2 separate regions of the Homo sapiens genome follow, and region 2 is linked to region 1. Evidence: fine-mapped expression QTL. Tissue or cell type: testis. Region 1 holds a variant in brackets; the other region holds the start of a gene. All regions are shown on one strand. Distances are from middle to middle.

Region 1 (4,162 bases):
TATTCTCATAGTTCACAAAGCTAGCTGCATACTGGAATCACCTGGGAACATTTTTTCTTTTTCTTTCTTTTTTTTTTTTTTTGATGGAGTCTCACTCTGTTGTCCAGGCTGGGGTGCAGTGGCACAATCTCGGCTCACTTCAACCTCCGCCTCCCCAGTTCAAGCGATTCTCGTGTCTCAGCCTCCCGAGGAGCTGGGACTACAGGCGCCTGCCACCATGCCCGGCTAATTTTTTGTATTTTTACTAGAGATGGGGTTTCACCATGTTGGCCAGGCTGGTCTTGAACTCCTGACCTCAGGTAATCCACCTGCCTCTGCCTCCCAAAGTGCTAGGATTACAGGCGTGAGCCACTGCGCTTGGCCGGGAATATTTTTTAAACTATGTCTGGCTCTACCCTCATAAAATTATGAAATGATTTTAATGGTCTGGAGTTGTAGTTGGGATATTCAGTTTTATCTTGTTTTTTGAAACTCCCCAAGTACTTATAACGTACAGGCTGACAAGAACACCTGATTCAATCAGTTCTCTCTGCCCCGACTTTACAGATGCAGAAACCACGACCAAGAGAGAAGAAGAGATTTGTCCAAGAACACATGGTAGGTAGTGGGAGGAGCCAAACCAGAGTCCTAAACCTTGACCCATTTTCCCACCATTCAACACTGCTCCTCGGGCTGAGCAGGGCCTGGTCCTGCAATGAGCTACAAACAGTCCGTGGGATGACAACTGCACAACTTTCATATTACATCAGCACTTAGTCTGTGGAGGTCGCAGGGAATTCTCGGTATAAGGCTAGGCTCAAGGAGTTCCTAGTCAGGAAAAGCTCCCCGGCGTGGGCTTGAGTAAAGGCCAGGTTGGAATTCAAAAGTTGGAGGACAGTAGAACTTCCATTCTGACTGGTGGGCCAGGAGAGAAGGGGTCTCAGCAGGGGTGTATGGAGACGAGTGTGACAGATGCAGGGAGAGTGGTGGGCCGCAGGAAAAGGGAAGCCAGACTGGGAGGGAGAGGCCAGGCAGTGCCATGAAACCCCAGCCAGCAAACCCAGGGCTATGGATGTGTTTGAGACTTGGACCAGAGTCAATGGGGACTTGGAAGCTGCTTGAGCCTGGGAGGCACCTCGCCAGAGGAGAGCTTAGAACATGGCTTCTGGGAGCAGGCATGGTGGTCAGGTAGACCGAAGGCTGAGGCTTAGAGCAAGGAAAAGGCCACAGAGTCGCCCTTGTGTTCTGGGAGGGTGGGGCTAGGAGCCGCTCCAGCACTTGTCAGAGCTGCCGCCAACATTTATTATATTAGAGCCAGGCATGGTGGTAAGTGCTGTAGTCCCAGCTACTCAGGAGGCTGAGGCAGGAGGATCACTTGAGCCCAGGAGTTCAAGGCTTCAGTGAGCTGCGATCTGTGATCATGCCTGTGAGTAGCCACTGCATTCCAGCCTGGACGATATAGATAGCAAGACCACATCTCTAAAAAACAAATATAGAGTTCTGGCCGGGCGCAGTGGCTCATGCCTGTAATCCCAGCACTTTGGGAGGCCGACGTGGGCGGATCACAATGTCAGGAGATCGAGACCATCCTGGCTAACAAGGTGAAACCCCATCTCTACTAAAAACACAAAAAAATTAGCCGGGCGTGGTGGC[G/A]GGCGCCTGTAGTCCCAGCTACTCGGGAGGCTGAGGCAGGAGAATGGCGTGAACCCGGGTGGCGGAGCTTGCAGTGAGCAGAGATCGCGCCACTGCACTCCAGCCTGGGCGACAGAGCGAGACTCCATCTCAAAAAATATATATATAGAGAGAGAGAGAGAGAGAAAGAGAGAGAGAGAAAGAGAGAGAGAGAGAGAGAGAAAGAGAGAGAGAGAGAGTTCTGTTCTGCTCTGGGCTCTGCTCAGCCATGCCGTGGGACAGCCTTGCCTGCCCCTCCCCCTGCCAGCAGGAATCCGTGGCACAGGCACAGGCTACTAATGTGGGTGTTAACAAGAGTGAGCAGCACCAAACCCCTGCTGGGTGAGGGTTGGGGACAGCAGGTGTGACTGATACACTGGGCAATGATGCCTCCCCTCCTGTCTCTGGCCTCTGGGCCTGATGGGCTCCAGCCTAATCCCAGCACTTCCTTTCCGGATGCTTGAAGGGAAAGCCCCACAGCTCTTGGTGTGCTGCAGGCTCTTAGCCCAAATGCTCCCCTCCTGAACCCCCCACGGCTCAACATGGAACAGGGTCTGGCTAAATACTCCACCAGAGTAAGAGACGGAGAAAAATCCCGCCAGGCGAGCAGCACAAATGATGACTGGACAGCAAATGGCACAGGGAGAACAAATCTTAGAATGGATGGATCGAAGCCACCAAATAAGTATGACAAAAGACGAAAGCAGAGCAGGGAGCTGAACGCCCTGCCACACGGGAAAGTCACTGGCAAGAACAGCACTGAATCGTCTTCCATCTCCCAAACTCTTGATGCTTTTCCCTCTCTGTGTGTGTTTTGTCTGCACCCATGTCTGCACTTCCACTCCCCTGAGATTCAAATGAAGCTGGGGAAGAACAATGGGAAACATTTCTGAATAGGGGCTGTCTTGGCCTGTGTTGCTATAAATGAACACCTGAGACTGGATAATTTATAAAGAAAAAAATGTCGGCCGGGCGTGGTGGCTCATGCCTGTAATCCCAGCACTTTGGAAGGCCAAGGTGGGTGGATCACCTAAAGTCAGGAGTTAGAGAACAGCCTGACAAACATGGTGAAACCCCGTCTCTACTAAAAATACAAAAATTAGCTGGGGGTGGTGATGCCTGCCTGTAGTCCCTGATACTTGGGGGGCTGAGGCAGGAGAATTGCTTGAACTCAGGAGGTGGAAGCTGCAGTGAGCCAATATTGCACCACTACACCATGTTGGTCAGGCTGGTCTCAAACTCCTGATCTCGTGATCCACCCGCCTCGGCTTCCCAAAGTGCTAGGATTACGGGTGTGAGCCACCACACCCGGCCTTCCTTGCAGATTCTTTTGGTACATAGCTCCATATTTCTTTCTTTCTTTTTTTTTTTGAGACAGAGTCTTGCTCTGTCGCCCAGGCTAGAGTGCAGTAGTGCGATCTCGGCTCACTGCAAGCTCCGCCTCCCGGGTTGATGCCATTCTCCTGCCTCAGCCCCCCAAGTATCAGGGATTACAGGCAGGAGTAGATGGGACTACAGGCGCCCGCCACCACACCCAGCTAATTTTTTGTATTTTTAGTAGAGACGGGGTTTCACCATGTTGGCCAGGATGGTCTCGATCTCCTGACCTCGTGATCCGCCCGTCTTGGCCTCCCAAAGTGCTAGGATTACAGGCGTGAGCCACTGCGCCCGGTCTCATAGCTCCATATTTCAAAATAGGATGCTGTATTTTGCTCTTTCCTCCATCCCACTCCCCGCCACACATGTGCAACCTTCTCTGCCACTCCATCTTCCTCACAGAGTTTGGCGTGGGTTACCTTTCTGAGACCCAGCAAAGGTTGCTGATCTCCTTCTTTTATGGACACTTCCTTGGGATGTGTCATAGTCCTTGGTTTTCTTCTCATATCGAAGAATGGAAACACAGAGCTAGTTGGAAGGTTTGAATATGTAAAGGTTTCAGCATGCAAATTTCACGTTAGCGTGTTCTGTCGAGGCAGTGTCCTTGAGGACCCAGCCATAATTAGGCTTACGTCACAGGCCGATGCTAGGACATGGTGTAAAGTGAGTTTCCTGTTATCCCCACAGTGGCTGAGGTCACACTTAGTAATTATCCATGTGGGCAGAATATTTTTGTTGTTTAAGCTATACTCTTTTTTTTTTTTTTTGAGACAGAGTTTCTCTCTTGTTGCCCAGGCTGGAGTGCAATGGTGCAATCTCGGCTCACCACAACCTCCACCTCCCAGGTTCAAGCGATTCTCCTGCCTCAGCCTCCTGAGTAGCTGGGATTACAGGCACGTACCACCACGCCTGGCTAATTTTGTATTTTTAGTAGAGACGGGGTTTCTCCATGTTGAGGCTGGTCTTGAACTCCTGACCTCAGGTGATCCACCTGCCTCAGCCTCCCAAAGTGCTGGGATTACAGGCGTGAGCCACCACACCTGGCCAGTTTAAGCTAACTCTTACAGAAGAGTGCTCAGCTCATAGGGGATCCCTTTATACAAGAGATAAGAACCAAACAAAAAGGAATGAATGA
Region 2 (4,162 bases), 260 kb after region 1:
CTCGGGTAAGTAATATAATTACTTTCAGCGAGACTCCATCTAAAAAAAGAAAAAGAAAGAAAGAAAGAAAGAAAAACAGAAAACAAGTTACAGAACAACAGATGTACCAGGCGTGTGCATGTGTGTGTGTGCGTGTGTGTGTGTGCGTGTGCGTGTGTGTGCATGTGTGTGTGTGCGTGTGTGTGCATGTGCGTGTGTGTGTGCGTGCGTGTGTGTGCATGTGCGTGTGTGTGCGCGCGTGTGCGTGTGTGTGTGGGCGTGCACGCTCTAACATGCAAGAAAGGACTAGAACGGTAGCCCCCGACACGATGAGACAACTGATGGGGGTGGAATTATTGATGATCTGTTTTCCTCTTATGCAATGTTTGACTTTTTGCAATGAGCTTGTATTTTTTAAATTTTGGTGCGTTTTAAGATAGGCACTACATGCTCATGAAACAAAATGTAAAATATAGCAAAGGGGCACAGAAAAAAGTCTGCCTCCCTCCTCCCTGCTCCATCAGCTGTCAGGTGCTGCCCCACAGAGGGGCCACTGTTACCAGTTCCTTACTCCCCTTCCTGAGATACTCAGCCCACTTGCAGACCCGGCATAACTTTTAACATCAGCAGAAATAGGGTATTTCCATTTTTTTAAAAAACCCTATATATCATATGTAATATATAATTATATTGTATATAGATATATGGTCCTGCCTACATTCCAGCGAGTGGCTTCCAATCCTTCCTCTGCCTCCCCTCCCCATAGGCTGACCCCTAATCCCAGGCTTTCTGCACAGGGAGGAGGGACCTGCTGGCATTGAGGGTGCTCTAAGCCTGGCCCTTCCATGGTCCCTCCCTATGTTCTGATAGGAGGCTGGGAAAGCCCCCTCACTGGGACCTCCTCAGTCCCATGGGCCAGGCCCCTCCTGCTGACCACAACCCAGGAGAGAAGGTCCCGCTTCTCTCCCGAGCCTTGTACGGTCAAACCAAGGCAGGCAGCCCAGGTGGGAAGAGCCTGGTGAGCGTGGGACGGGATTGGCCTTGCACCCCAGCATCGCCACTTGGAACTGTGGTCTCTGGGCTGGACGGCCTTCCCAGGACTTCCCCGAGAGACAGGTTAACAAAGGTGCCACTTCACAGAGATGAGTGGACACCATCACGTCGCAGCTGCACCCAAATGGGAGCTGCTGCAGCATGCACTGGGGGCCTCCCCAGAGCCCGTCGCCTCACACCCCACATTCCTGCACCCCGCTCCTCTCACCTGTGCCAGTGTTGACTTTGCCCCCCAGTGACACCTCCTCCCCTCCTCATTGCCTTCCATCCTCACAAAAGCTCTGTAGTGATGCCCATGAAGAAGAAACGGTTATGAGTGCATTTTACAGATGAGGAAAGGGAGACTGAGAAACGTTTAATGCTGTATCTGATCTCACAGTTAGCAGGTGGCATGTCAGGGTTTGAACCCACATGCATCTCTGTCAGCAGCTCATGCCTTTAGCACTCGGCTCTGCTGCCTTCCTTCCAGTCATGGAGTCTGACGGCCCATCAGGGCCTCTCACTCCACGGCCACCTTGGTGTCCCTGCTCCGCGGATCCCTGGGACCTCTGCCTCCTGGTTTGGGGGATGGCAGAGCTGCCAGAGGTCCAGGAGGATGCTCCAGAGATGATGGTCCCAGAGGCAGGGACCCCCTGGAGAGATGATGTAGGACTCTTGACACTTAGGGCCCCGGCTCTGAGTGCAGACTCCACCTAGACAAGAGAAAAAATAAGGAATGCAGGGAAGAGGATTACCTTTGACACAGCCTCTCCCGGTAACTGGGGCTCCTGGAACGGCAAGAGCCAAGAGGGGACGTATTTAAGGACCCTGCTTCCCGTCCATTGAGCCCTTGGAGTTCCTGCCCAGGAAGTTTGCGTGACAAGAAAAAAAAATATTCAAATGTGGGGTGTGGCGTCCTCTGGACCTCTGCTCCCTACAGCCCAGGTTTTGGGGATTAGGTCCCGGGCTGTTTGCTTTTGTTCACTTCTGAAATGCGAGAATGTTTCTGAAGGCTTGGGCAGGGCACATCTCCAATCTTCAAAAGAGCCTATGTTTGCCCTGGGCGTGGGGGCTGCTGATTGATTCAGCCTGGCATGGAGCTCTTCCAGCTTTCCAGACTTGCCGCTGCCAGATGCGGTTCTCTGAGTTCTCTGGTTACATAAGATCGGCAGGGCTCAGCCACGAACCACAGTGAGAGCATGCAGCTCCCCCGAAACGCACCCCCAGCCACCGCTGCCCCGGGCCCTTCACATCCCCCAGTGTGCACAGGGCCCCATTGAGTCAGAGATCCTAACCCTGGGGAGCCACAGGCTGGGGACTTTTGATGGGGGTCTCCAATCCATAAATCTGCTCTCTCGTTGAATAGCTGAGAAGAGGGCCAAGGGTCTGTGTGGTCACCGAAAACCAGAGATGCTTGGGAAGGAAGGAGTCTGGAAAAGCCGTTCCCACGCTGTCTGATCAATGTTCGCTGGGCTCCTGCTCTGCACCACGCTGTGGGGAGGAGGCAGGTGTGGAACAGACTCTCGGCCCCTCTCACCAGGCGCTTCCCGCCACCCTCACCCGCCTGCAGGCAGACTGCTTACCAGCATGGGGTCCCTGCTTCCCATTTCATTCGAGGAAAACACAAGGTTCCGGTCCTGGCCTACGAGTCCTGAGGATGTGCTCTGGCCCTCCTGCTTCTCTCCACCTGGAGCCCCCTTCCCCTACATCCACCCACACGGCTACGCTCCAATGTGCTGTGGAAAATAGCACAATGCTGTCGTCTTCCTCCATTATTTTTTCTCTGGAGCGTTTATATCTTGTTTGCTACCTGTCCCTTAACTCCTGACAGCTAGAATTTGATTTGTTCACTGCTGTAACCTCCATACAGCATTTATAGTAGATGCTCAATAAATATTTATTGACTGACAAAATAAACAGGAAATTTCAAAATAATGTGAACACTGTAGTAACCAGGTAGGCAGAGGATGCTAGAGGGGCTGGGGTGAGAGTCCGTGGGAGGGAACATCATCTGAGCTGAGTGAGAAGCATTTGGGCAAGGAACAGCAAGGGGGCTGGAAGAGCAGAAGCAAAGGCACAGAGGCTGGGAACGTTATGTCACGAAAAAGTGCGATGTGTCCACTGTTGCCAGCAGGAGGTGTGGAGGTGAATGACTCTCCTGGGGCGGGGGCTCACGGAGGCCTGTGGGCCAGGCTGGCTGTGGGGGTGCAGGGCGCTGAGGAGATTATCAGACAGACAAATGTCTGCTATTTTTTGTTTTAGAGAACCCCCTGGACAGGGCACAGTGTGAGAAAGGTCTAGCCCAAAGGCTGCAGCTTCCAGCAATGCAGGCAAGAAATGACGAGACCCCCAAATAAGACTAACAGAATGGGAAACATTCCAGAAACAGCAGAAAGAAGCATCTGCAGGACCTCGCACCTGTGCAGGGGCTGGACTGGGTGGTAGGTGCAAAGTGGGGTGCCTCCTGAGAGGGGAGAAGACCGAGCCTGTGCCAGCCTCTCCCCTTTTCTGGTGGCAGCAGCTGATTATCTTTGCAGGCAACCCCTTCCTACTTGGTGAGATGATCAACCAGGTGCCTTCTCCAGGCCAGCCATGGGTTGGGGTGGGCTCCCCATGAGGCCTCCCTGACTCTCCTGGGAATTTGGATCTTGAGTAGAGGGCAGAATGCAAGGCCGAAGGCCATTCGGAGCTGACTTCTTGTGGCAGCGGCCCTCCCCTGGGAGAACCATGGAAGCAACTAGCAAAAGCCAGCAACACAGCATTGAGTACACGAAGTGACCAGAACAGTGCCTGGCGGGCCGAGGGCATCCTGGAAAGGTTAGGTGGTGTGGGTGTCATCAAAAGTGGCAGCAGTAGTGGTGGAAGCGTCAGAGCAAGGAGCCTAAAAGCAGTTCAAATCTACGAAGAACAAAATCCTTGTTTGCGTGTTTGGGTTTTGGTTATAGTTTCAGTAGTGGCAAAAGTGTGGGAGTGTGGGTTGTGCTAGAAACTTGCAGATACTTGCTTTTCAGATTTTCTTTTTTCTTTTTTTTTTTTTTTTTTTGAGACAGGGTGTTGCTCTGTTGCCCAGGCTGGAGTGCAGTGGTGCCATCACGGCTCACTGCAGCTTTGAATTCCGGTGCTCAAGCGATCCTCCCACCTTGTGACTACA

Alleles and levels. Positions count from the first base shown, and alleles are read on the strand shown. Sizes are in standard deviations (SD) of each study's normalised expression.
In carriers of allele G in region 1, the expression in testis of the gene that starts at base 1,806 in region 2 tends to be lower than with A alone (large effect, 0.93 SD a copy in GTEx).

Evidence for each region. PIP is the estimated chance that this variant, and not a neighbour inherited with it, causes the effect.
Region 2: ALDH3A1 starts here. The variant in region 1 is the best candidate, but not a certain one, in a credible set for the expression of ALDH3A1 in testis (GTEx, PIP 0.85).

The regions. Positions count from the first base shown.
Region 1 is chr17:19,487,577-19,491,738 of GRCh38, forward strand. No RefSeq gene overlaps it. Among named protein-coding and RNA genes, the nearest start is that of TRW-CCA2-1, 19 kb to the right of the region's middle. The variant G/A (reference allele first, on the strand shown) is at 1,633.
Region 2 is chr17:19,746,493-19,750,654 of GRCh38, forward strand. It overlaps ALDH3A1 (aldehyde dehydrogenase 3 family member A1), which reads right to left and starts at 1,806. Exons shown (of 11, transcript NM_000691.5): 1 at 1,767-1,806. RefSeq lists an enhancer at 3,763-4,042.